Linked DNA regions of Homo sapiens. The protein of the gene in region 7 interacts with the protein of the main gene of each other region in a biochemical or structural test. Each region holds a gene or a part of one and is shown on either strand. Other genes may lie near its edges. The genes, in order: NFE2, PAX2, SPIB, GEMIN5, JKAMP, BMF and MAPK8.

Evidence for each region.
Region 1: of the proteins of MAPK8 (region 7) and NFE2, one has a biochemical effect on the other in vitro, tested with the Homo sapiens proteins (one study listed by BioGRID).
Region 2: of the proteins of MAPK8 (region 7) and PAX2, one has a biochemical effect on the other in vitro, tested with the Homo sapiens proteins (one study listed by BioGRID).
Region 3: of the proteins of MAPK8 (region 7) and SPIB, one has a biochemical effect on the other in vitro, tested with the Homo sapiens proteins (one study listed by BioGRID).
Region 4: the proteins of MAPK8 (region 7) and GEMIN5 form a complex in vitro, tested with the Homo sapiens proteins (one study listed by BioGRID).
Region 5: the proteins of MAPK8 (region 7) and JKAMP form a complex in vitro, tested with the Homo sapiens proteins (one study listed by BioGRID).
Region 6: of the proteins of MAPK8 (region 7) and BMF, one has a biochemical effect on the other in vitro, tested with the Homo sapiens proteins (one study listed by BioGRID).

The regions. Positions count from the first base shown.
Region 1 is NC_000012.12:54,298,216-54,302,392, forward strand, and holds the start of NFE2 (transcription factor NF-E2 45 kDa subunit), read right to left. Parts: upstream 2,801-4,177; 5' UTR 2,586-2,800; intron 2,062-2,585; exon of another isoform or gene 1,932-2,061; intron 1-1,931. UniProt on the Homo sapiens protein: Component of the NF-E2 complex essential for regulating erythroid and megakaryocytic maturation and differentiation. Binds to the hypersensitive site 2 (HS2) of the beta-globin control region (LCR).
Region 2 is NC_000010.11:100,744,454-100,748,381, reverse strand, and holds the start of PAX2 (paired box protein Pax-2), read right to left. Parts: upstream 2,801-3,928; 5' UTR 2,190-2,800; coding exon of another isoform or gene 2,122-2,189; coding exon 2,079-2,121; intron 1,368-2,078; coding exon of another isoform or gene 1,195-1,367; exon of another isoform or gene 945-1,194; intron 1-944. UniProt on the Homo sapiens protein: Transcription factor that may have a role in kidney cell differentiation. Has a critical role in the development of the urogenital tract, the eyes, and the CNS.
Region 3 is NC_000019.10:50,428,938-50,431,814, reverse strand, and holds the end of SPIB (transcription factor Spi-B), read right to left. Parts: 3' UTR 501-2,877; downstream 1-500. UniProt on the Homo sapiens protein: Sequence specific transcriptional activator which binds to the PU-box, a purine-rich DNA sequence (5'-GAGGAA-3') that can act as a lymphoid-specific enhancer.
Region 4 is NC_000005.10:154,890,062-154,893,211, forward strand, and holds part of GEMIN5 (gem-associated protein 5), read right to left. Parts: intron 2,489-3,150; coding exon 2,326-2,488; intron 1,682-2,325; coding exon 1,180-1,681; intron 1-1,179. UniProt on the Homo sapiens protein: The SMN complex catalyzes the assembly of small nuclear ribonucleoproteins (snRNPs), the building blocks of the spliceosome, and thereby plays an important role in the splicing of cellular pre-mRNAs.
Region 5 is NC_000014.9:59,494,517-59,498,016, reverse strand, and holds part of JKAMP (JNK1/MAPK8-associated membrane protein), read right to left. Parts: intron 3,000-3,500; coding exon 2,793-2,999; intron 1-2,792. UniProt on the Homo sapiens protein: Regulates the duration of MAPK8 activity in response to various stress stimuli.
Region 6 is NC_000015.10:40,095,380-40,098,879, forward strand, and holds part of BMF (bcl-2-modifying factor), read right to left. Parts: intron 1-3,500. UniProt on the Homo sapiens protein: May play a role in apoptosis. Isoform 1 seems to be the main initiator.
Region 7 is NC_000010.11:48,404,177-48,407,676, reverse strand, and holds part of MAPK8 (mitogen-activated protein kinase 8), read right to left. Parts: intron 2,826-3,500; coding exon 2,696-2,825; intron 1-2,695. UniProt on the Homo sapiens protein: Serine/threonine-protein kinase involved in various processes such as cell proliferation, differentiation, migration, transformation and programmed cell death.

The DNA.
Region 1 (4,177 bases), on a different chromosome or scaffold from region 7:
TACAAGACCTTGCTACGCACGGTGGCTCACGCCTGTAATCCCAGCACTTTGGGAGGCCAAGATGGGAGGATTACCTGAGGTCGGGAGTTCAAGACCAGCCTGACCAACATGGAGAAACCTTGTCTCTACTATAAATACAAAATTAGCCGGGCATGGTGGCGCATGCCTGTAATCCCAGCTACTTGGGGGGATGAGGTGGGAGAATCGCTTGAACCCAGGAGGCGGAGGTTGTGGTGAGCCAAGATCATGCCATTGCACTCCAGCCTGGGCAACAAGAGTGAAACTCCACATCAAAAAAAAAAAAAAAAAAAAAAAGATACATGACCGTGGGCAAATTGCTTCTCATTCAGTCCCTTCCATTAAATGGAGACAGGACTAGGAACCTAATTGCTATTAAAGGCCATAGGTTGCATCTAGCTCAGGGAGTCACAAACTTCATTGTGTGCCACATTCACCTGGGCTACATGTAAAGACACAGATTCCTAAAAGCCACTTCAAATCTACTGAATTGAATCCATAAACCCAGGAATCAGCATTTTAAAAGTGCCTCAGTGGCCAGGTGTGGTGGCTCACACCTGTAATCCCAGCACTTTGGGAGGCTGAGGTGGGTGGATCACCTGAGGTCAGGAATTTGAGACCAGCCTGGCCAACATGGCAAAACCCCATCTCTACTAAAAATACAAAAATTAGCCAGGTCTGGTGGCGCACACCTGTAATCCCAGCTACTCAGGCGGTTGAGGCATGAGAATTGCTTGAACCTGGGCGGTAGAGGTTACGGTGAGCTGAGATCATGCCACTACACTCCAGCCTGGGCAACAGAGTAAGACTCTGTCTCAAAAAAAAAAAAAAAGAAGGGGAGCAAGGGGAGGCAGGAGTTTGGGGGAGAGAGAGTTGAGGAGAACCTCTGGATCCATTCCAACCAGCTCTTGGGTGCAGTAGCAAGTTTGTACCAGGTGGCAGGTGGAGCAGGATGCTTTTCCCTAGACGCTCAAGGATGGATGGTGTTCTATACACCAGGCATAGGGTCCCTCTGGGTTTCCAGAGCCTACCTTTCAGAGGACAGCAGAGCTGGCAGGCAGTGGGATAGATCAGGGAGATAGATAGAATTGGATCAAATAGAACACCATAGAGGGTATAGAAACTGGGGAGATACTGGGAAAGTGAAGTGGGCTTCCCTGTGTTCCCTTTCTTTTACAATAAGAAGCTCCCACTTTACAGTTTAGCTTTTGCATTTTGGGGTCACACCACCATCTTACTCCCACTGGGTTGTCTGTTCCTTCTCTTACTCCCCAACATTATGGATTAGGTAGAAATGGGGTTGTCACCAGGGACTAAAGTCCATCCTCCTTACTCTTAGCCTGGTGGTCCTACCCAGAAAGATTTTTATCATAATCCCTAAGTACTCACAGAATGATACGGAGCTTCATGATTAGGAATACAGAGTGAGGACTATTCGGAGAGGGATGATGGAGAGAGGAATACATTTGGCCTTAGCTGCTGCCCCAGGGCTCTTAACTTCCTTAACGAGGGGGAACGATGAGAGGGGGCTTGCCTCAGGATCCCTTTTCTGAGGCTTATTTGACCACCTCACCTCTCCAGGTGTCAATAGGTGCAGTGAAAGGATGAGGAGGGATTAGTAAAACTTGGGGTATTGGTTAACCGGTAAGCAACCTATTTAGAAAGATTAGGGAGAACTCCCGAAGAGAGAGAGACACACAGAGATGAGACAGAATGAAGGGGAAAAAAAGGAGGGAGAGAGATTTAAGCATAGTGAGCTCAGTGCCCTAGGGACATGCATGACTCAAACAAATGTGTGAGAACAAAGAAGAGGGGGACGAGTTTCTGCTATTGTGTCACTTCATCCCTGGACCCCAAACTCCAGTCCTTTGGTACCGATGTCTAGGGGATCCCAGCCCCAGCAGTTCTGATACCTCCTCTCTTCTCTTCCACTGCTTCCCAAGCCCCTATTTCCCAAGCAGCCAAGAGTTCCAGTTAGAAGCAACTATGCTGGGGTTGGGATGTCTTCCTTCTCCCTCCAGGTCCAGCTGATCTCTACTGCCCCTGGGCACAGAGAAGAGAAAGGGCAAAGGAGCCAACAACCCAGAGGCAATCTCCCATCCAACCCCCGCACCTTGCAACACTTCTCAGAGGTTCAGATATCCAGTGTTTCCAATTCCTCAGCTTTCCCTAAACCTTCTCAGCTGCCTAGACAGGGCAGAGTAATGGAATGGAGTTGGGGAAAGGGTAGTCTATTGGTTCCCTCAGGGTAGCCCACCAGTTGAAGGATTCCTCCTGGCTACTCCCCAGCCCCTCAGCGGTGCCTTGCCTCTGGAGACCCCTCTCTGATCCCCATTCACAGCCTCCACCCCAAGGATCCCAGAGCACCCAAGAAACCACTTAGGTCTTCTCCTAGAGGAGTTCCCAAATATGTCAGATTCCTAAACCAGGGGCAATCTAGAAAGTCTGAGGTCTCCTAGGATACCGAAAGTTGGTTATTTTCCCCCCTCACCTCCTTCACCCCCCAGCCTGCCCCTCGGATCTCACTGGAATCCGCCCCCCCCACACACACCCTGCCTTTCAGGCACCTGTGGTGGAGTCACAGCAGGGTGAGGAGAGAGATGAGGCTCCCGGTGTTGTCTCTGGGGAGGCTGAGCCTGAGCTGACACTGCTGGACGAGGATCCCGGCTACCTTTGAGAATCTGCGAGGACCGCGCCCCGCCCCCGGGCCATTGCTGAGCGCTGAGTGTGGAAGCTCAGGCTGAGCTGAGCACAGGAGCCCCAAGCAGGCGCACCAGCGTCTGAAGCCCTCGGCCTGAGTTCTCAGTCCTTCCTCCAACCCTCCCCTTTCCCCGTGGCTCTCCTCTCCTCCTGCCCCTTTCGGCCAAGAGAGGAAACTTGAGCCCGATGTGGTTTCTGCCCACACCCCGCCCCCACCTTGCTCCTGGCCAGCGGGGGCACACATGGCTCCAAGCCTCTCCCAGCCCTCCTTTTCAGCCCAGGAGTCCAGCCAGGTCTGCGTTTCTCCCATGCATTTGACGAATTCCAACCTGATGGTCCACTCGAATGTGACCTTTAAACTTTATACAGGTTGTCGTCGCCTTGTGTCCCCACGGCTCTCCTAGGGACAGGGAAACTGAGTCATATCAAGGTGGAAGGCAGCTGAAGGTAAGGACCAGGTGTCTAGCTTCCCAGCTGTCTAGGCAGTTGGACGTTTAGGGTATAGCCTTCATTTACAGAAAACCTGGGCTCTGGGAACAAGGGCAGGGGAACTATTTGGAGGAGGAGGGGCAACTGACTGCTTTGATGTGTCCTTTCACCTGTAGCCTTCTCCCCTCCCCCCTCAGCCTCAGAAGTCCCAGGACAAAGGATTCTTTCTTGGCCAGGTTTTTGTCAGTGTGTGAAGGGAGTTAGGTGGGGGGCCACCCAGCAGGGAGATTATTCACCTCCCGTAAAGGGGACCCCAGGTGTCCTTTGTCCTCCTTTCTCCCAGGCAAAGCACCCCAGCCACATGGCACCCAACTCTGTTAGGCCAGTAAGTACCCTTATTCATCTTTTTTTTTTTTTTTTTCCAGAGAGGGGCTCACTCTGTCTCCCAGGCTGGAGTGCAGTGGTGTGAACATGTTTCACTACAGTCTCAAACTCCCAGGCTTAAGCAATCCTCCCACCTCAGCCTCCCAAGTAGCTGGTTCTATGGGTCAGTGCAACCATGCCCAGCTAATTTTTTTTTTTTTTTTTTTTTTTGGTAGAAGTGGTGTCTCACTATATTGCCTTGGCTGGTATTGAATTCTTGGGCTCAAGCAATCCTCCCCTCTTGGCCTCCCAAAGTGCTGGGATTACAGGCATGAGCCACCTCACCCAGCCCACTTATTCATCTTTTTGCCTGCAAGCTACACCACCAAAGCCCCAGGTCAAACATCTTTCTCCACAGACTGTGAGAAAAGAGCCTTTCTTCCTCCTAATTTGTAATGGCTTTCAGCTCTATATGTCTAGCTTCAATCCTGACATCTGCAGCTTACATTTTTTCTTCTTACAATGTTCAAGTTAAATTAGAAACATCTGAAGACTGGGGAAGCAGATAGGTGCCACTCTGGAGTAGGACTGGCATTCAACCAGCATGCTCTGATGGGATTGTATTTGCTGTTAAAATAATGAAAATGTTCAGTCCTAGTTGATAAAA
Region 2 (3,928 bases), about 52 Mb from region 7:
TCGCGTTGCTGGGAGAGACTGAAGCCCCTTCTTTTACCCCCTTGCCCACCCCGTTAATCTCCCTATCTCTAGCCCCACTTCTCACCCTCCCCTCCCTCCAAACCCCGACCATCAATAATTTAGGCCCCGGGAGAACTCGCGTTACCGGTATGAAAAGGCGGCAGCTGCGGGCAGATTAAAGATGAATAATTCAGCCTCCCCGGGCTCAGGGCCCGGCCCCTCAGCCCCAGTCTAAGGGGTGGGGATGGGAAGGGGACACGGCGGGAGTCCAGGGCTGGGGGACTGCAGCGAGTCGGCGCTGAGTCGGGCCTGGAATGCGCCACGGCCGCCAGCACCGACTCGGGCTGCGGTGTCTCACCCACCAGTCCACCGGCCCGCGGGCCCGCGCTGCGGCTCTCTCCCTCCGACCTCTGCTTGGCCGTGCAGAAACCTTTGGGTTTCAAAGTGGCTGCCCGCGGGCAGCCAGGACTCGGCGGACCCCCGGCGGAATCCGCAAAAAAGGAGAACGAGAGCTGTGGCAGCGGGCCGCGAGGCAGGCTGGCTGGGCGAAAACGGCGTGTGGACCCGGTTCCACTCCTCCCGAAAAGGACCGAGGCTTTCCGGCCCGCTCGCCGAGACCCGCGGAGGCCTGATGCCCTCGGCGCGGCTTTCCTGCGCTTGGAAATTACTTAGAAAAATATATTTTATCCCAGAAGTATTTTTAAACGCCCCCCCCAACCCCCGCAACGCTAAATATATGATTAGCGAAAAACACAGCTCTCCCTCCTCGGCTCTCTTGTCCTAAACACAGGTCCAAGCCGGGTCTAAAGTTTCCTTGTGAAAAGTTACAAATTATCCTTAATTATTAATCTGCAGATAGGGAGGAGTTTTCTATTTAGAATTTTAGCTTTTAAAAAAAAAAGCCTGCAAAAAAAATCTCAGAATAGTTTTTCAAGCTAAAGACATGGCATAAATTCAAATTTTATTAAAATAATTCCCTCTTTTCTCTATTTTTTTCTCCCTTCTCCCTTTTCTTCTGTAACATCATGTCAACTTTCTTTCTTTAATTTCCTTTCCCGTGTTTGGATTTCTCTTTTCCTTTCTCCTCAGCTTTGGCATTTGCTTTCCTTTTGTTCTTTCCCCCTCATTTTTTGCTCTTTGCTGACCCCCTGGCCAGGTTGCTGGCTGCGTGATCCTCAATGGGGAGTCGGCAGTCTAGGCAAGGAGCCTCCAGAGCTGAGAGCAGAGCTGCACTCTGCCGGGGGCCCACCTGGAAGGCTGCGCTGCTGGCTCTCTCCCTGACTTCGATTTCTTCTCGGAGCCCCTCTTTGTTTTTAGAGCATCCCCCAGGCAGAGGCAGGGAAAGATGACCATCGTGTCTTGACAACCTGGGATTCCCAATGTGAAGGGAAGGGAAGGCAAGGGAAGGGGGGTGGGAAAGAAAGGAAGAGGAAGAAAATATTTCAAACCAACCCACAAGAAGCCTATGCTGGGCTGGAAGGGCCTGGAGATGCTGAGAGATGAGGGTCAGAAGGGGGCACCCCACCCCCACACTCTTCTGCCCAATTGTCCTGACACTGAGGCTGAATACTCTTGGAGTCTCCTGGACCCCACGACTCTTAAGTTTGAGAAAGATAAAGATGTGGGGAGACAGGAGAGGGAGGCAAACAGAGGAAGAGAGAAAGAGAGAAAAGACAGAGAAAACAACAAAACAACACCCTGAAAACTGCCTGCTAATTTGCCCCCCAGCCCAGGGCAAGAGGCTGACTAGGGAGAGGGTGGCTGGAACCAGGGCTCCGAGGCCGTGGATCCCATGACCTAAGAAGGAGCGGATAGAAAGAGCAAAGGCAGGTGATAGGGATCAGGGAAGGTAGGAAGGCAGGCAGACAGAGAGGTAAGAATGGGTGACAGAAGGCAGGAGAGAAACTGGAGGCATTAGAAACACCGGGCGAGGGAGAGAAAGAACGAAAAGAGGGACCAGAAGCCAGGGAGGCCTCCAAGATGGGACCTGAGCGCGAGGGGCCGGGGCCACGCTGGGACTGGACAGGGTTGGGACGGAGAGCCCCGAGCCGGGACAGGAGCCGGGCGCCGGTACTCACGGTGCATCGCGGAGAAGGGGTCTGCTTTGCAGTGCATATCCATGGGGAGGCAGAGGAGCGGGAGCAGCGCGGCCGCCGCCGCCGTGTCGCCTCTCAAACTCAACTTCAGGACTTGAGGAGAAAAGGGAGGGACGGTGGGGGAGGGAGGATGAGTGAACGCCCGGCTGCTGCGGGGCGCGCGGGGGCGGGGGGCGCAGCACTGCGCTCCCCGCTGGGGCTCCTCCGGGTTGGCCGGAGCTTGCAACTGCAGTAGCCGCAACTTGCCACTGTCGGGGCTCGGGGCTGGGCGGTCAGCAGAATGGCCCCGGGGCGGTGGGCCGGGCCGGGGTGCACTGGGGGCGCATGGCTCGCGCTGCAGCTGCAGCCAGGGCTGAAGCTGGGCGGGGGAGGCGACTCGCTCAGCTCCCCTGGAACCTGGTCATCCGAGAGGCGGTGGTCGGAGAGCGCGCGGGGCGGGGGCGGTCAGAGGGCGCCGGGAGGGGAGCCGGGCCTCTCCAAGTGCTGGCGAGTTGGCGAAGTTGGCAGAGAAGTAGCAATCCCGGGGATGTCCGAGGTGGCGCCTGCGGGAGGGGAGCGCGCGGGCCAGGCCCCCGCCCCCGGAAAAGGCAGGCGCACGCCGCCGCGGCCGAAGGGCCGGGAGGGAGGGAGGGAGCCGAGCGGCGCTGGCAGCTCTGGGCTGGCCCCAGGTGGGTTGCGGCTGCGAGAAGACTCGGCCGGAGACTGGAGCCTCGGCTCCCGGTGTGTGTCTCTCTAAAAGCTGCAAAGCCCCCTCCAGACCTCCTCCCCCTCCCCGCGCCGGGAGATGGATGACTTGTCAGACAAAGGCAATAGATTCCACCACTCTGTGATTCGCCAGCGCTGGAGCCCCGAGCTTCGGCGAGGAGGGCCCCGAGCCTGTCACTCCGGTGCCGGCTAGGGGAGGGCAGGGGAGGGAGAAATGGGAGGGAGGGAGGGAGGGAGCAGCCGGCGAAGGAAGAGGGAGGGAGGGGAGCGGACCGGGGGAGGGGGAATGGGAGCCCGGGATTAAAACTACACTGAGAAACGAAACTCGCCGATAAGATAAACGCTAGATAAGGATAAAGAGCGGTCAGTCTAATGAATATTCAGGTAACGACAGAGGGCCTCGGAGCGCGCTGCGCTGTGAAGCCGGGCTCTCAGTTCTAACTCGCCCAGCCCTGCCATCCACTGGCCAGTGCCCGCCTGGGCCGCGCGGCCCCGGGCCCAGTGCGCATCCCTAGCCCCAACCCCACCACCCTCGGCTCTGAGTTCCCTTCCGTTCCTTCCCGGCTCTTCCTTCCTCTCTTTCTGGTCCTTCCCTTTGGCCTTTCCCTCCGGAGGTACCTTCCCACCCACGCACCCCCCACTTCTCATTCCACGGAAAAGTGTCCAGCAGTTTGTCTTGTCCCCTCCCGTTCCACGCGACTGTGCGCAGGGCCTCCCCAGTCCCCTTGCCCACCGGGTCTGGGCAGTCCAGAACGCTTGGTTCAGAATCGAGCTGAAGACCTCCGGCGAGTACCCACCTGCCTCGGTGGGACCCAGCGGATGGCGGGAGAGCCGGGGGACTTGGTTTCTGAACCCTCGGGTGACTGGGAAGGGGGTACAGGGGAGGGAAACAGTGCGGAGCTGCAGGTCGCTGGCGGCAGAGGATGTGGGAGACGAGGCTGGCTCTCCCCGGCTGGGGAGAAGAGGAGGCTGCGGACGCGGCTGAGCGCCGCCCGCTGCTAGCTCGGTGGATCCGGGGCGAGCGCAGGAGGCGCAACCACGGGGACGTCCCCACTCCTGCCGGAGCCTCCGCAGCTCTCTCTGGCACTAGCTCCCTTGCTCGCTGGGGTCCGCTCGCACGCACCAGG
Region 3 (2,877 bases), on a different chromosome or scaffold from region 7:
CTCCGCCTCCGGGGAGCGTCCAGCCAATCCGGCGTCAGTTCCATGTGATGTCACGGGTTGCCAGGCAGACTGCCACTGCGCTCCCGCGAGCCCCGCTAAGTTGGGGAGGGGCCCAGGCCTGCAGTGCCGCGGCCACCTGAAGCCTCGCGTCCCTCGCTGCCAGCCCGAGGGCTCAATTCAGAGGGAAGGGGACAGACACCCAGACGGAAGGGGAAGCGGGGAGGAGGTGGAGAACTTCAGTTGGCAGGAATAGAGGAAGACATAAACGGAACCCTCTGTGCCTGCGCGTCAAGCCTCTTATTTCTCGGCATTAAGGTTCAGATAGGTTTTGCTGTATGGTGTCTTTGTGATTTGTTTGTTTGTTTTTGAGACAGGGTCTCGCCGTGTCTGGAGTGCAGGGGCACGATCACGGCTCACTGCAGCCTCAACTTCCTGTGCTCAAGTGACCCTCCCACCTCAGTAGTTCGGAGTAGCTGGAATTACAGGCATACGCCACCACACCCCGCTAATTTTTTATTTTTTTTGTAGACGGGTGGGAAGGGGATCTCACTATCTTGCCCAGGCTGGTTTCAAACTCCTGTACTCAAGCGATCCTCCTGCCTTGGCCCCCCAAAGTGTTGGGATTACAGAGCCACCGCGCCAGCATATAATTCTCTCTTTGAACTCCTCTCATCATCACCCGTGATGTCACGGTGTCTCTGAGAGCCAGCGGCCTCAGTGGAGGGGCAGGATTGCAGTCCCTGACAAAAGGTCCCAGGAGGTTTGTCTACGTCGATGCATCTTATTTTATTCCACATTTAGGGTGACAATGATAGCTTTTGTAAAAAGTACCTTCCCCGTTGCAGGGGGCCCTGGGGAGGACGTTTTACCTGCCCTTCCTCCCTCCCCCTTCCCACTCATTCTCTTAAGGGCAGGTCCCAGCCTGGGCTCTGCCATCAGCTGCTGTGTGCCTCCACATGGACTTCTCGTGTCTCTAGGTCATTGGCATTCCTTCCTCCTCCTCCTCCTGGGAGTGGGGTGGATTTCAGGCGGTGTCAAAGGCTCAACGGGGCTGCAACAGTTTTTTTTTTTTGAGACGGAGTTTCGCTCTTGTCGCCCAGGCTGGTGTGCAGTGGTGTGATCTCAGCTCACTACAACCTCCGCCTCCCAGGTTCAAGCGATTCTCCTGCCTCAGCCTCCCAAGTAGCTGGGAGTACAGGCACATGCCACCACGCCCAGCTAATTTTGTATTTTTAGTAGAGAAGGGGCTTCACTATGTTGGTCAGGCTGGTCTTGAACTCCTACCTCAGGTGATCCACCTGCATCGGCCTCCCAAAGTGCTGGGATTACAGGCGTGAGCCACCGCACTGGGCTGGAAAGTCTTTTTGAGATCTTCCTCCTCCTTCTCTCCCTTTTTCACAGAAGGGACAAACTAAGGTTGGGAAGCAGCAAGTCATGCACCCTAGATCCACCTGCCCACCCAGGCTCAAGGACCTCTGGCCTCTTGGCCCGCAGCCTTTGACTCCCTGGGGGTCCCAACCAGGGCTCCATAGTCCACCCAGGCTTCAGTTCCAGCTGGGTTTATACAGTGGTCTAAAGCCAACAGGCTTGAGAAGCTGCTAGGGTGAGATAGCCAGGGATGGCAGCGACTGGGGCAGATTGGAGAACAAATGCCTCATTAGGAAAGGCTACTGTCCTGTTCCAGCTCCCCACCCCCCACCGAAAACTGGCCGACTCTCTCCAGACCGTCCAAAGTTTTAAGTGAAGGCAGAAATCTGGATTATGCAAAGTCTCCCTATTTTGAATGGTCTGCTGTTTTTGTTGTTTTTATTTTCAGACGGAGTCTCGCTCTGTCCCCCAGGCTGGAGTGCAGTGGCACAATCTAGGCTCACTGCAACCTCTGCCTCCCACGTTCAAGCGATTCTCTTGCCTCAGCCTCCCGAGTAGCTGGGACTACAGGCACGTGCCACCACGCCCAGCTAATTTCTGTATTTTTAGTAGAGACAGGGTTTCACCATGTTGGCCAGGATGGTCTCGATCTCTCGACCTCGTGATCCGCCTGCCTCGGCCTCCCAAAGTGCTGGGACAACAGGCATGAGCCACCGTGCCCGGCCTTGTTTTTGTTTTTAAGACGGTGTCTCACTCTGTCGCCCAGGCTGGAGTGCAGTGGCACGATTACAGCTCACTACAGCCTCCTACTTCCTGGGCTCAAGAGATCCTCCCACCTCAGCCTCCTGAGCAGCTGGGACCACAGGTGTTCACCCCCACGCTCGGCTAATTGTTTTTGTTATGTTTTGTAGAGACGAGGTCTCATTATGTTGCCCAGGCTGGTCTTGAATGCCTGGGTTCAAGCCATTCCCCCTGCCTCGCCTCCCAAAGTGCTGGGATTACAGGTGTGAGCCATTGCCCAGCTGATGGCCTGCTGTTAATGTGGATCCCTCACACCTCCACCACCAAGTGCTACAGTGCACTAAAGAGACCACCACCAGCGACCGGGGCCTCGGTTGGGGGGCAGGGGGGTGACGACCTTGAGACTTCTGGTTAGAAATGACATGGGTGGGGAGCTGCCATGATCACCCAAAATCAGTCGCGTGGCCAGAGTGGTCTTCAGCATGGCCATAGGGAGTGGCACTAGGAAGGGTAGGATCCCCATGAGAACTCAGTCTTTGTGGGGTCCCTGAAAGGGCATATCAGATGGAGAGCCTAGGAGGTCTCAGATGTGATTGGAGGATCCCAGATATAACAAGGGTGTCCCTGACAGGGCCCAGACATGACACATTTCACTGACTCCCCATCCTCCACCCCAGACCTCTCAAGAGTGATTTCAGACATGACAAAAGGATCTTGGAGGAGCCCTAGATGTGATTGGGGAACTCCAGACACATAAAAAGGGGCAGC
Region 4 (3,150 bases), on a different chromosome or scaffold from region 7:
CTGCATCATTTTACATTCCCACCAATAGGCACAAGGGTTCCAATGTCTCTGCATCCTCCTCAACACTTGTTCTGTTTCTCTGATAGTAGCCTAATGGCTATGAAGTGCTGCTTCACTGTAGTTTTGATTTGCATTTCCCCAATGATGAGATGTTGAGCATCATTTCCTGTGCTTACTGGCTTTTTAGAGAAATGTCTATTCAAGTCCTTTGCCCATCCTTGAATTGGATTATCTTTTGTTATGCCTGGGTAGCTTTTACCTTTTATTTTTAATATTTTTTAAAAATTTAAACTTTTGCCTATGACACAGCCCTCAGGAGGCCCTGAGAGCATATGCCCCTGCCTGGGTTACTTTTATCTCATTTTATAAATAAAATTCCTTTGTCACCTGGCTTCTTAAAATTTAATTTTTTTTTTTTTTTTTTGTAGAGACAGGGTCTGTCAACCAGGCTGGTATGAGTGGCATGATCGTATCTCACTACAGCCTCGAACTCCTGGGCTTAAGTGATCCTCCCACCTCAGCCTCCTGAGTAGCTGGGACTACAAGTGCATGCCACCACTACTGGCTAATTTAAAAAAATTAATTTTTCTAGAGACAGGGTCTCAATATGTAGCCCAGGCTGAACTTGAGCTCCTGGCCTCAAGTGATCCTCCTGCCTCAGCCTCCTAAGTAGCTACAGGGTACATGCCACCACACCTGGTTACTTTATTTGTATTTTTTGAGATGAAGTCTCCCTCTGTTGCCCAGGCTGGAGTGCACTGGTGCGATTTTGACTCACTGCAACCTCTGCTGCCCAGGTTCAAACGATTCTCTGGCCTCAGCCCCCCAAGTAGCTGGAATTACAGGCATGTGCCACCATACCCAGCTAATTTTTAGTAGAGACGGGGTTTCACCATGTTGGCCAGGCTGGTCTCAAACTCCTTACTTCAAGTGATCTGCCCACCTCGGCCTCCCAAAGTGCTGGGATTACAAGCGTGATCCACTGTGCCCGGGCTTTTTTTTTTTTTTTTTTTTTGTAGAGACAGGGTCTCGCTTTTTTGCCCGGGCTGGTGGTGAACTCCTGGGCCAAGTGATCCTCCTGCTTCAGCCTCCCAAAGTGCTGGGATTATAGGCATGAACCACTGTTCCTAGCCAGCAGGGTCATTTTTCATTCCGTCTTGTACTTGCCTCAGTACTTACCACTGGCTCTGAGAACTGCAGAGGGGCTGCTCTGCTTCTACTTCCGGTTCATTCTTATCAGGACCATTTGCTGTGGATTTACAGAGTTGACTCTTTTGGTGTTGTCGGATCATTTCTGCCAAGGTCTCTTGGACTTCAGCAACAGTTCTCTGTGAGTTTTGGAGACTGGCATGCTTTTCTGAAAAGAGCTCCTTAAAAGTACTCAGCATTCGCTCACCTTCTTCTGTGAGTCTCAAGTCTAGTTCTGAAGGCCTGTTTGGCTCTGGCTGAGAAGTTTCAGGGTCCGTTTCTTCAGTGCTGGCAGTGTCTAACTGCTGGCTTGGCTCAACAGAGAGTGTTCTGTGACCAGCCCTTACCCAGACACTGGAATTTGGGCAAGGTCTGGAGAGAGACCACCAGAATTCATACAGACGCCCATAAAGAAAAAAGGCCTCCAAACTTTTGAAAGCTGGTGTGGCAGGGGATTGATGGTCCCCCAACTTGTCTCTTAGGTGGTCACAGCCTAGGAAAAGAGGAAAAAGATACTGGGTCATGCATTTCTCTAGTTGCCAGAAATGTGGCTTCCTGCCCTTATGTTCTATTTCTTATCAACCAAGAAGCAGACCCCAGGAAAAAGGACAACAGTGTGATCCACCGGGCCACATGCCTTTCCACCAAGAGCCAACTGGAGGCTAAACATTTCCTGGCTTGCGACAGTGTTCTCATTACTACATCCTAGGAGTCATTCAAAGCATGATAGAGTATTCCATTTGTACTACTGAAGGCTCTGGGGCCACGACAACAGATCACACTGTCTCTCTGAAAAATCACAATGATTTAGTTCAGTGACTGACTATGCAGCCCAAGGAATGTCTATCTTTTTTGCTGTTCTTTTCTGTTCTTACTAACATGTAACTACATTCCTATTTCTCTCTCCCTTAAACTTTGTGGAAAGTGGACAGGAGGCTGTAAGAGGGTAGGGCCAGGTAAAGGAAACAGTATAGTTGTTCTTAAAAGCTTCGGTAAGAGAATCCAAACTTTCTACTAAAATGACACAGCTGGCCAATCTCCATCTTTTAAGAATCTAGGTACTCCCAGTGCCACACCACTAATGGTGGTGATGTTGTCCATTAAAGGGTGTGCCTCAGGCAGCAGGAAGTCACTTACCGTCAGGGAGAAAGGCTGAGTACACTTCCTGCATGATGGTGAAGCTCCCTGAGTCATAGCTCCGGACCACCGCCCGAAGGAGCGCCTGCACAGCCTCGTCCCAGGAGGCCATCTGTTGGCTCAGCACTGCCAGGGTCAAGTCATGGCAAATGTGAAGCAGGAGCTGGAGAGAGAAGCCAGAGTCTGAGTTAAACATCCTCCCACGGTAGGCGCAGAGGATGCCACCAAACTGTTCCTGTGAACCGCATTTGGAAACAAGTACACACAATTCACACTTTGAAAGTTCCTCTTGTCTCCGCCACCCATTTTTGCTTCCCACATCGGAAACTCTCATGTCTAGTTGCACAGCAGCACACACACGTCCCGGTGTTAAAGTCTGTTCACACTGAGAAAACACCTTTACATTTGCATTTAATTAAAACAAAAAGTGGGCCAGGCGCGGTGGCTCATGCCTGTAATCCCAGCACTTTGGGAGGCCAAGGTGGGCAGATCACAAGGTCAGGAGTTCAAGACCAGCCTGGCCAACATGGTGAAACCCCGCCTCTACTAAAAACACAAAAATTAGCCAGGCATGATGGCGCGTGCCTGTAGTCCCAGCTACTCGGGAGGCTGAGACAGAAGAATTGCTTGAACCCGGAAGGTGGAGGTTGTGGTGAGCTGAGATTGCGCCACTGCACTCCAGTCTGAGCATGAGAGTGAGACTCCCTCTCAAAACAAACAAACAAACAACAAAAACAAAAAGTGAGTTTCTGGAACTAAAAGCTGTAATTAAAAACAAAATAAAGGCTGGGTGCAGTTGCTCACACCTATAACCCCATCACTTTG
Region 5 (3,500 bases), on a different chromosome or scaffold from region 7:
TGTCACCAGATTTCTAGCACTTTATTTTGAATAATGGGACTTTTATCCACATAGTTCTACCTTAATTTTCCTGAGTATTTTCAAATCATTTTTACTATCTTGCTACTCAAACCCTCTCCCTATACAGGGGAGTGTCCTAGGAAGTCAGCAGTCATTTCAGATCACGGACCACATGCTTCCTCCCCACACAGCATCATGATACCATAATCCTGTGTTCCTATGATGCTTTTAGGTTCAGTCCTGTACAGTAATGCATTAGTACATGTTTGATCTCTTGGGTGATAATTTTTTTGTCTTGTTATACCACCCCCAAACAACATCAAAAGAAAACAAAATCTATCCATTCCTGCAACTTGTAGTTCCTTAAGAGCTCTAAAAAAGATGATTTTAATCAAGAGGAAACCATTATGTGTTACCTCTTCTAATGAATTAGTTTCCTAGTCTTGTTTGCTACCTCTTATCAACAGCAAAAGAAAAAAAATCTGTCCATTTCCACAACTTGTAATTCCTTAAGAGCTCCAAAAAGATTCACTTTAATCAGGAGGAAACCATCCTGTGTTTCTCCAAATGAACTAGGAAACTAGTTTCTGGAAGTGATTACGTTTCCCACTCCTGCCTTCCACCAGAAGACCTCATCCCATTCCACTCTTCCCCTCTTTCAATCCATGCTGCCTACATGTGGGGATAGTTTAAATTTGACAAACTAAAGCTAATTCCTGCTATAAGAGTAATAACTGCTCATTTTCCATAACTCATTCTTAAAGTTTTAGTAATGTAAAAGTTATTTTTTTGCAGTAAGTTATAATGATAGAAGCTTACATGTTTTTTCATGCCTCATCTGTTTCCCCTTAAAACTATAATTATCAGTAAAGTCCTGTGGTATTTTTCAATTTGTAAGAAACTAGGCTATATATACATTGGGAAAAACAGCCTTCATTTGTCAATGCACTAGTGTTCCAAAGGTTTCTGGTAACTGTGTGCTATTGCTTTTTGTTGACTTGCAAAAAAAAAAAAAAAAAATTACTATGACTTGTGGTAGCCCTACAACCTTCGGAAGTGCTTAGCCCAGTCTGACCATACATTTATATTTAGAATGCTTAGGTAAATAAATAATATGCCTAAACCCAATGCTATAAGATACTATATAATATCTCATAATTTTAAAAATCACTGTTTTGTATAATAATAAAACAAGGCAGGCAAGCTGTTCTACAATGACTGTTGGTAAGGGTGCTGAGGAAGAAAAACAAACAATCTTGATTCAGGGATAGTGAATAGACAAAAAATGTCCTAATCAATGAAGCTGTGTGATGATTCTGATTGACAGAGAGTGCTGCCACAAGATTCTTAGGCTACACTCAAATCAGCAGAAAAAGTGCTACAATAAATTAGAAGTGACTATTACAGGTGCAGATGAGGGTTGGTAGTACCTGTTTGCCATTTCTCTTCTAATCTTATATTTTCTGACCCTCCTACTGTAATAGGCTTTATAAATATTACAATAAATAACATAAATGAGACTATCGCTAAATAAGTCTGATTTTGTTTTAAATAAGATTACATTATATCTTATTTAAATATAATATTCAATTCATTTATTAAGTTTTCCAAATAGGACCACGTTAAGTTATGCAAGGCCTTAGGAGAGTTATATGACAAGAGGGTAATTAATGCTTAGAGTTAAGCTCTACGAATCAATGAATCAACAAAAAGGACATTATCAGTGTTTTATATAGTATTTTATATATAAATTATAGCTATATATATATATCTATAAAATAATTTGCCATACCTAAGAACTGGCAGGGAGAGGCCGGGCACAGTGGCTCACGCCTGTAATCCCATCACTTTGGGAGGCCAAGGTGGGTAGATCACTTAAGGCCAGGAGTTCAAGACCAGCCTGGCCAACATGGCAAAACCCCGTCTCTCTACTAAAAATACAAAAATTAGCCAGGCATAGTGGCACATGCCTGTAATCCCAGCTACTTGGGAGGCTGAGGCACAAGAATCACTTGAACCCAGAAGGCAGAGGTTGCAGTGAGCTGAGATCTCGTGCCACTGCACTCCAGCCTGGGTGACAGAACGAGACTCTGTCTCAAAAACAAACAAAAAACTGGCAGGTAGAAAAGAAGATTTTCATTTTTTCTAAGATATCTGGTTGTTTTGTACCTATTTGCATTTCTATGTTTTTGATGTTTTATTATTAAGAACTTGCTCAAAAAGGACTAATTTCCCTGAGCATATTATGTACTGAAAGCCTGCTACAATTATGAGAATATAAATACCAGACTTCTATTTTCCCTTTCCCCCAAAAAATATCAAAATGAATTTGATTCATTTTCTAGTTCTAGAATTTACAAAAATTCATAAAAATTCTGAAACTGGAATAGTCTGGCATAATTGCATACAGAATTTTATGAATTTAATATTTTGAAAACAAAACATTCTAACAGAAATTACACTTATTTGGGGAGAAAAAAAGAAAAAACACTAATCCAAACACTGTAATAATGCCATTTACTATAAAGTGCCTCCTATATGTAAGTTATATGGTATCTAGAATGTGTGGATTAATTTAATCCTCACGACACCTTATAAGGATCATTATTCCCATTTTACCAAAGAGAAAACTGAAGTTACAAGAGGCTGTTTACATGTTCAAGGTAATAAAGCCGCTGGCAGACCCAGAACTCAAACCCACACCTGTTTTTGTCTCCAAACGCCATAAAATCTATAATAATCCTCAGAGATTTAAAAAAAAACAATGATCTTAAGTCGAAATAAACACTTACAGTGGGTAGACGGCTTCATGAGTACAGTGTACTGTGGTAACGTAATCTGGACTTGGGTTGTAAAGCATCGTGTACCAGTCAGAAAGCATCAATACTCGACATGAACGAATATAAAGAACACCAACTGGATCACTCACAAGTAAGGTGATAATAGCTGCCATGCTGCATTCAAATAATGCAGTGATGTGTTGGAAAAGTGCGCTGGAACTAGAGAAGGAAAAGAGGCATGATTACTAGAAAAATTGCAATATTTAAATGGCTTTAATAAAACATGTACATGTGTCAAGATACAGATTTCTAAATCTATAAGAAAAGTCAAAAACTACTCGAGTATAACCTTTTTTTCTCAAAAGGGATAAATAACACTGTAGCAGTATTATCTAAATGTGTAACAGAAAAGCAGAAATTATATCTACCCTGCATCTTTAGTATCTTGCCAAATTGTTGCTAAAAATTTCTTAGTTATCTGTGTATCATTTTAATCTTAATATGCACATAAAAGATGGTATGTAACGTGTTTGTTAGAAAGTATAGTAATTATAATATTATAAGCTCATCTCCTACCCAATAACTAGAACACTGTCAACAATTTGTAACTACATCTTTGTTCCTCCCCATCCATACCTCTGTCTCTCCCTTAGAGGCAACCATGTACCAAACTGCTTTTACCACTTTTTTCCAGAAAGTTTTTATCCCAACTGTATTTCT
Region 6 (3,500 bases), on a different chromosome or scaffold from region 7:
CTGAACAGGATGAAGAACACAAAGATACCAAAACACCAGAGAACGTGGGATCTTCCACAAGAGGGTGTGGAGGAGAAGGGGAAGAGAGGGGAACCAGGAATGAGTGTACTTGGCCTCTGACCCTCAGGCACCCGGCACAGCACCCAGCGCACAATCTGAGATCAACAAGGGCAGATCCCCAGAACCAGGCCTGCCCTCCTAGACTCAGCTAGGGAACCCCTCACAGAATGGGAGTTCCCAGAATACACAGTCAGGGTGACCCAAGGGTCGGGGCTGGGATACAGAGGAGGGGAAGCTCACCCTAGAGCCCTCGGACTCACATGGTTTAGAAGGCAGGGCCAAGGAATGGAGGGAATGAATAGAGGTGAATGCCCCCAGGGAAGGTGCCCTAACATGGTAGATCACGGTGTTCTCTTCAATGAAGAGAGCACAAGCAGGCATCAGAGCCCCATGCGGCTTCTTTGGCCCAGCCTCATTTTCTTGCCACGGACAGGGGATGAAGGCAGTCAGCTGACAAATGTTTCAATCCCTACTGTGTGCAACACCCTATGCCTGAATGCACAGCTGCTCATCCTGTGTAATGGGGAACATGGAAGGCATACAGTAGGCACTCAACAAGGGCATGCTGGACCGACTACAGAGGAGTCAGCCCTGAAAGATAACCCACTTGTCTGAGGCCAGGAACAACTGATGTCTGGCCAGGTCTAAAGATGTACTTTATGTGATAGTATCAGCCTCACACCTGGGGAGAGGCCCAACTAGTAAAAGGCCTCCTTTTTTTTTTTTTTTTTTTTTTTTCTCTAAAGAGCTGGCTGTGGTGTCTGACAAGGTTGGATTACATAAATCAAACTCTGTTTCATCCCACACAGCCTCTGCCCTAAGCACAAAGCGTGTTCCCTACGCTCCCTGGATAAGAATCTCCCTCTGCCTCTCCCCTTTTCAGATCCAATTCATACCCTCTGGGGGCTCTGTGTGTCACCAGTGTTCCAGATGCTCCAGCTAGAGCTAATTCACCCCAAAGTATCAGAGGAAGAAGCAAAGCGAAGCCGTGTGCAGCTCTAAAAGAACCTAACTCACAAAATGCAAATTTACCAAACAGAGAGCAACTTATAATATCTCAGATACAGAACAGAGCACTTTCCTTTCTTCTCATGTGATCCTCACGATAGGAAGAGCAGGTATTAATCAACCCATTTTAGAGCGACGGAAACAATGGCTCAGAAAAGTCATCCCAAGTTAGTTGGGAGGGGTGTAATTTGAGGCCCTGACTTCTGACTCCAAAGCTATGTTCCTTCACTAAAATTTTACAGTGTGTTTATTGACATTATGAAAATAGCATTACCTTTTTCAAAGCAAATCACCACTGATCTGCTCCCCTAGTATGCTTAAAGACATTGTTTCCAGATCATTAACTATTTAGTAAGGACGCTGTGGACCAGAAAAAAATAACCCTTTCAGAGGCAGAGCTAACTGAAGATCAAACAGAAATAAAGCTAAAACTGGTCTGAAATTATAACTTCAGACTGTGATCTGAAACCACACTCAATCTCTTCAAAATGCAGAATTGTCTATACTCTAGGGGAAGGTGCACAGTCCACGATGTGAAGTTTTCCTCCCTCTTCCCTTTTCCCTGTCATTCTCTAAACCTACTCAGGCCAAGGCTGAAAGAAAGAGCCTTGCAATTAAGAACAGGAACATTGAGAGCAGGAAAATTCCTGCTTGAAGGAAGCTAGGAAGATGTTTTCTGTTGAAATAAGGACATTTTAATGAAGCACCCAACTGAGCTATCAAGCACCCAACTGAGCTACCAAGCACCCAACTGAGCTACCAAGCACCCAACTGAGCTACCAAGCACCTAACTGAGCTACCAAACACCTGAGCTACCAAGCACCCAACTGAGCTACCAAGCACCTAACTGAGCTACCAAGCACCCAACTGAGCTACTAAGCACCCAACTGAGCTAAGAGTTATGTGGATACAAAGATGATTAAAATATTATAAACTTGGTTCTCAATTGTTTTACAATATAATGGGGAGAAGAGCAAGAGCACCTAGCTGAGTATCACATGAGGCAGAGCGGGTTGGGGCAGCAAATGTGTGCTTCCTTGTACCCTTGTTTTCCGGAATGTGATTGCTGGGCAGCAGGTATGGGGCGATTGGACCATGGTTCCAGAATCCATCAAATCTGTATGACGCCTAGCTCAGCAAATTACGGTGTGACTTGGACATGTTACCTCACTTCTCTGAGCCTCAGTTTCCTATAACACAGTGGCAATGGAGTCTAAAAGTCCAAGGTTGCTGTGGTGATTACGTAAGAAAAATATACATGAAGCACTGGGCCTGGGGGCTGCAAGGAGCAGGCTCCTCCTTCCCTGGGGAGCACAAGGAAAACCTGGGACTCACTGGCTTTGCAGAGCACGTCTCTCAATATGCTCTGCAACAGGGCCGGCCTGGGGAGCACCATCTTCCCGGCAGACTCACGAAATCCCTGGGAGATCCCTGACTTTCTGCTTTGAGACTGCCCACAGCAGCCACAGGCCATGGGGCTCAGGATTCTAGGCTGCCAGGGTAAGCCAAGGATTCTGAAACCCAGAGGGCAACCCCTTGGACCCAGTGGGCCCACTGCCTCAGACTGCTTCTGACCCAGAGGCCCGAGGAACGAGCAACGTGGCAAAACGGAAAAGGAAAAAAAAGACTCCTTGCCAAGAGCTTCCTCAGCCCAGCCAGCAGTGTTAACAGGACATTGAAGCCACCATGGCCACGCCCATTGCTTCTCTAAGGAAAAAAGAGCAGTCCGAAGCCAGCCAGCTCTCAGTGGAAGATGGCAAGGCTTCCTCTAACGCAACTGGAAGACACTGGCTCCAGCCACTGGGGGTTGAGGGGTACGGTTCGGGGACAGAGCTGTGCTGCACCATCCATGTCCCCAGACCCTTGTTTTGCACCTCCACAGCCTGGAGGGAGGAACTACTGAGACCCTTACTCAGTTTCCTTCAAGCTGAGAACAGCTCCATCAAACTACTGGGCAACTTCTTCAGAGCTCAGAAGGGCACAATGGTGTGTGCCCTGGTTAAAGAAGGGAGAGGGAGGGGGTTCGGGGGACAAGCCTGTTGTGTGTATTATGCTATGCAAAATAACCCCAGGTTCTGACACTCGACTTGGGGTCTTTTCAGCTGACTGTTCATGTCCTGTCCAGGACCAGGTCAAGGCAAACCAGGCAAGGAGGAAGGATGGAACCCTCCCCTTCACACACGGACTGATTGTGTGCTCTGGTCATGGAACATGACCTCTTGGCTGCCAGACATGGATCAAAAGGCAAACCAGTCATTTTTCTTTAACCTTCTTTCTTTGTGTCTCCCTTAGTCCCCTCCTCCCATCACCCACTTTCCAAAAAAAAAAGCCAATTTCCATCCCATGGCAGGCCTTGGTGGGGAGGGAATGAACTCTCCGGAACTACAAGGCCCTTCTCCTGGAAGAGAGAGCAGTCAGGTGCAGAGTGTGTG
Region 7 (3,500 bases):
AATATACTAAAAACCACTGAATGGTATACTTCAAATGGGTGAATTGCATGACACAGAAATTATATTTCAATAAAGCTGTTATAAAAGAGATTCAAACAGATAGTTGTCCCATTTTTCAAAAAGGGAAATAAAGGAAATTATATCAGTTATAGACTGGACAGCCAAGCAAAAGTCAATGATTAGTAGTGGTATATAACTACTTCAAAAGAAGTAACAATTACCAAGAGCAGGTAAAAGTTCATTGAGAAATACTATTTCCTTCCATGAATAAAAACAACAAAGAACAATAGCAATAAATCAGAAAAATGCAACCAGACACAGTATATGAAGATTTCAAAATGGCATTTTACAAAATGTTTCTAATAATAACATCCATGTGAATAAGATGATGAATTGGAAACAGCTGGATAACTGTGATAGTTAGACACGTAATTTCTGCAATATGCTCAAAAGTTGCTAATGAATTAATCCAGCTATTACAAAGATATCCTGAGCAAAACTGGGAAGTGAAGCCCACAAGTGAAAAGTCAGAACAAGGAAGAAAAAAGCAATCACAGCAATCACTAGTAGACCAGGAAGAGCAACCACATTTCACCTTTGAAATTTAATAGGGAGAAACATGAAGTACTATACTTAATTCTCCATAATCAAAAGAAAAAATATAAAGACTGGGTGAGATGGGAACTGTAAGGCAGGCCTGTAACAAAGAAAGACAACGGGAGTCAGATGGGGACGAAATTTCTAAACAGGGTTTTAATGTCTACAGTTAAGAGATGACATGCCTCAGCTCCTCTCAGAGGATTTGATCAGACGTGCAGTACTGTGTGCTAGGTGGCTTATGCAGTAGTGTGTGCTAGGTCACTTTCAAAGTGTGTTCAGAGATAAACGGCCAAGATTAAAAAAGAAACTCAAGACCATCTATGAAAAGAATGAGAAAAACCAGAGATGCTTAGACCAGTGAAGAGACAATCTGTACAGAGGATGAAATTGTTTAAAAGGCAAAACACTACAAAAACATCCATCCATGGGTGAGTGGAATAATTCAGTTACCATTTCCAGTTTTCCCATATTTAGCTTTATACTCACTCACTGAACAAATATATTCTGAGTACCTACTCTTGTCCACACTCTTCTAGGTGCTGAGAGTTCTGCCTGGATAAACCTCTGCCACCCCTGCTAGAGGCCTAATCATGTGAGACATGCTTAGTCATACTCCATGCAGTTGAAGGAACCACCTTTCTTTGCAGTCACCCAGGCTTGAGAGGTAGGATTAACTGAACTCCTCCCCAAGGAAAAACTAAGGCAACACCACCACTGCCATGGAACTGCGTTCACAGGCCACAAGGGGCACGAGCAGCTCTATCCATGGACAGGATGCCACCAGCAAAACTGTGATGAGCAACACATCAAGTTCCCGCTTGGAACAAGAATGGCTACCACAACTTCCTCCCTATTATTATCTAAGTTTAATCTTTGTCTCTGGACCTTTTTTACGTCATTCTTCCTCTCTGAAGGCTCCTTTCCTTCAACAATCCAATTTTTACCCCATCTTTAAGAGTCAGCCTAGGTCTACTCCTCCCCAAAGCCTTCCCAGTTAATTAAAGCTCACAGAAATCGTCCCTCTTTTTAGATTTCAATATATGGGCCACCATCATCATTTGACAAACGGCCACTGCTTTGTGATGTTTGATATTTAACTCTCTGTATGTCTGTTTTGTATTCAAAACACCATTGTAAGCTCCCCAAATAAAGGGCCTAATCCTGAACTTCCATGATTTTTTTTTCCCTTGATAATGAACCCAGTAACTCCAATACACAGAGGCCTGCACATATTTAGATCTCAAAATGTGGTAAATTGTATTATCTGTAGTCAGAAGGTACTGTGCTCATTATATTATATAAACTCTTTTGGACAAACACTACGAAATGTCTTTAGTCAGATGCCTTCGGTTTAGGACTGCCTAAAAGTGTCCCTTACACAATTCACTCCTAGTTTATTTCCTCAACTGAAGAAATCATTCCATTAGAACAATCACAAAAGTATGAATAAGCTTAATGTAAGTTTAAAAAAGTATAACTGTTTATTCTCAAAATGAGTGCAACTTATATATCTTTATAAAGACTTATCTTTGCAATCATTAGAAAATAGAATTAGAAACATGTTAATACCCTCTAGATAGTTTCAAACACTTTCTGCTAAACCCACTATCCTCATCATAAAGTGATCAGTGAATACTGCCATCACTTAAAGAGGTGGGAGTGGGGTAGGGAGAAGTGATATAAATTTTATATTCAATATGATTAAAGTCAGAGTGTCAAAGCATAATGGGAACAATTTCATCTCTGTGCTAATGCTACAGTTTTCTAAATGTCAGCCTGACGGAGAACAAAAAGCAGAAGATGAGATCAAGCTGAATAAAATTCTTCTCAAACGCTTATCTTTTTAAAACTCCTTTTGTAAATTAAATGACAGGAAATCATATAATCTAAATTTTAGAAGCCATTCTTCTGATACAATTTAATAAAGTTGAGGAAAATCACCCTGTAGATATATATATATATATATATATCCCTTTTAAACAATGTTTTAATACAGAACAATTTAAAGCCCCTAATATTTAGTCTTTGATATTCACATATTCATGAATAAATCTTGATTTCATCTATACTTAGGAAACCAAAAATGTTCACTTACATTTTTGTGATTAACACATTTCATAAGAACTAGCTCTCTGTAGGCCCGCTTGGCATGAGTCTGATTCTGAAATGGTCGGCTTAGCTTCTTGATTGCAACATTTCTTTCAAGAATGGCATCATAAGCTGCGCTGTAATAAGAAATTCAAAAACACACAAAAAAACTTCAAGCAAAAATCTGTAAACTGAATTCATGAAACAGTCATATACATTTCTCACTTTCTCCAAAGACAAGTAACTGGATCCCTTCCAAGTCTATGACGCTCAACATGTGTCTTCTATATCTATTACAACATATATTTTTTTGCAACTATTTCCTAAAATGCTAATGGATCCAAATAGACAGTGGACTATGCCAACAGAGACCCTGCATGTTCGTTGTGTTGCCTCAAAGATCCACCTAGTACATCGTGGGCACTCAATGTACAAATCCATAATTATTTAGCTCCACTAGATAGCCTAAAGCCTAAATAAATCCTTAACCTTGTACTTCCATCAAGAAAAGGTAGGATAAAGAATGCATACGAGGCTGGGTGCAGTGGCTCACGCCTGTAATCCCAGCACTTTGGGAGGTCAAGGTGGGTGGATCATGAGGTCAGGAGATCGAGACCATCCTGGCCAACACAGTGAAACTCCGCCTCTACTAAAATACAAAAAAATTAGCTGGGTGTGATGGTGCACACCTGTAGTCCCAGCTACTTGAGAGGCTAAGGCAAGGGAATCACTTGAACCTGGGAGGCGGAAGTTGCAGTGAGCCAAGATCGCACCACCGCACTCCAGCCTGGTAGACTCCCTCAAAAAAAAAA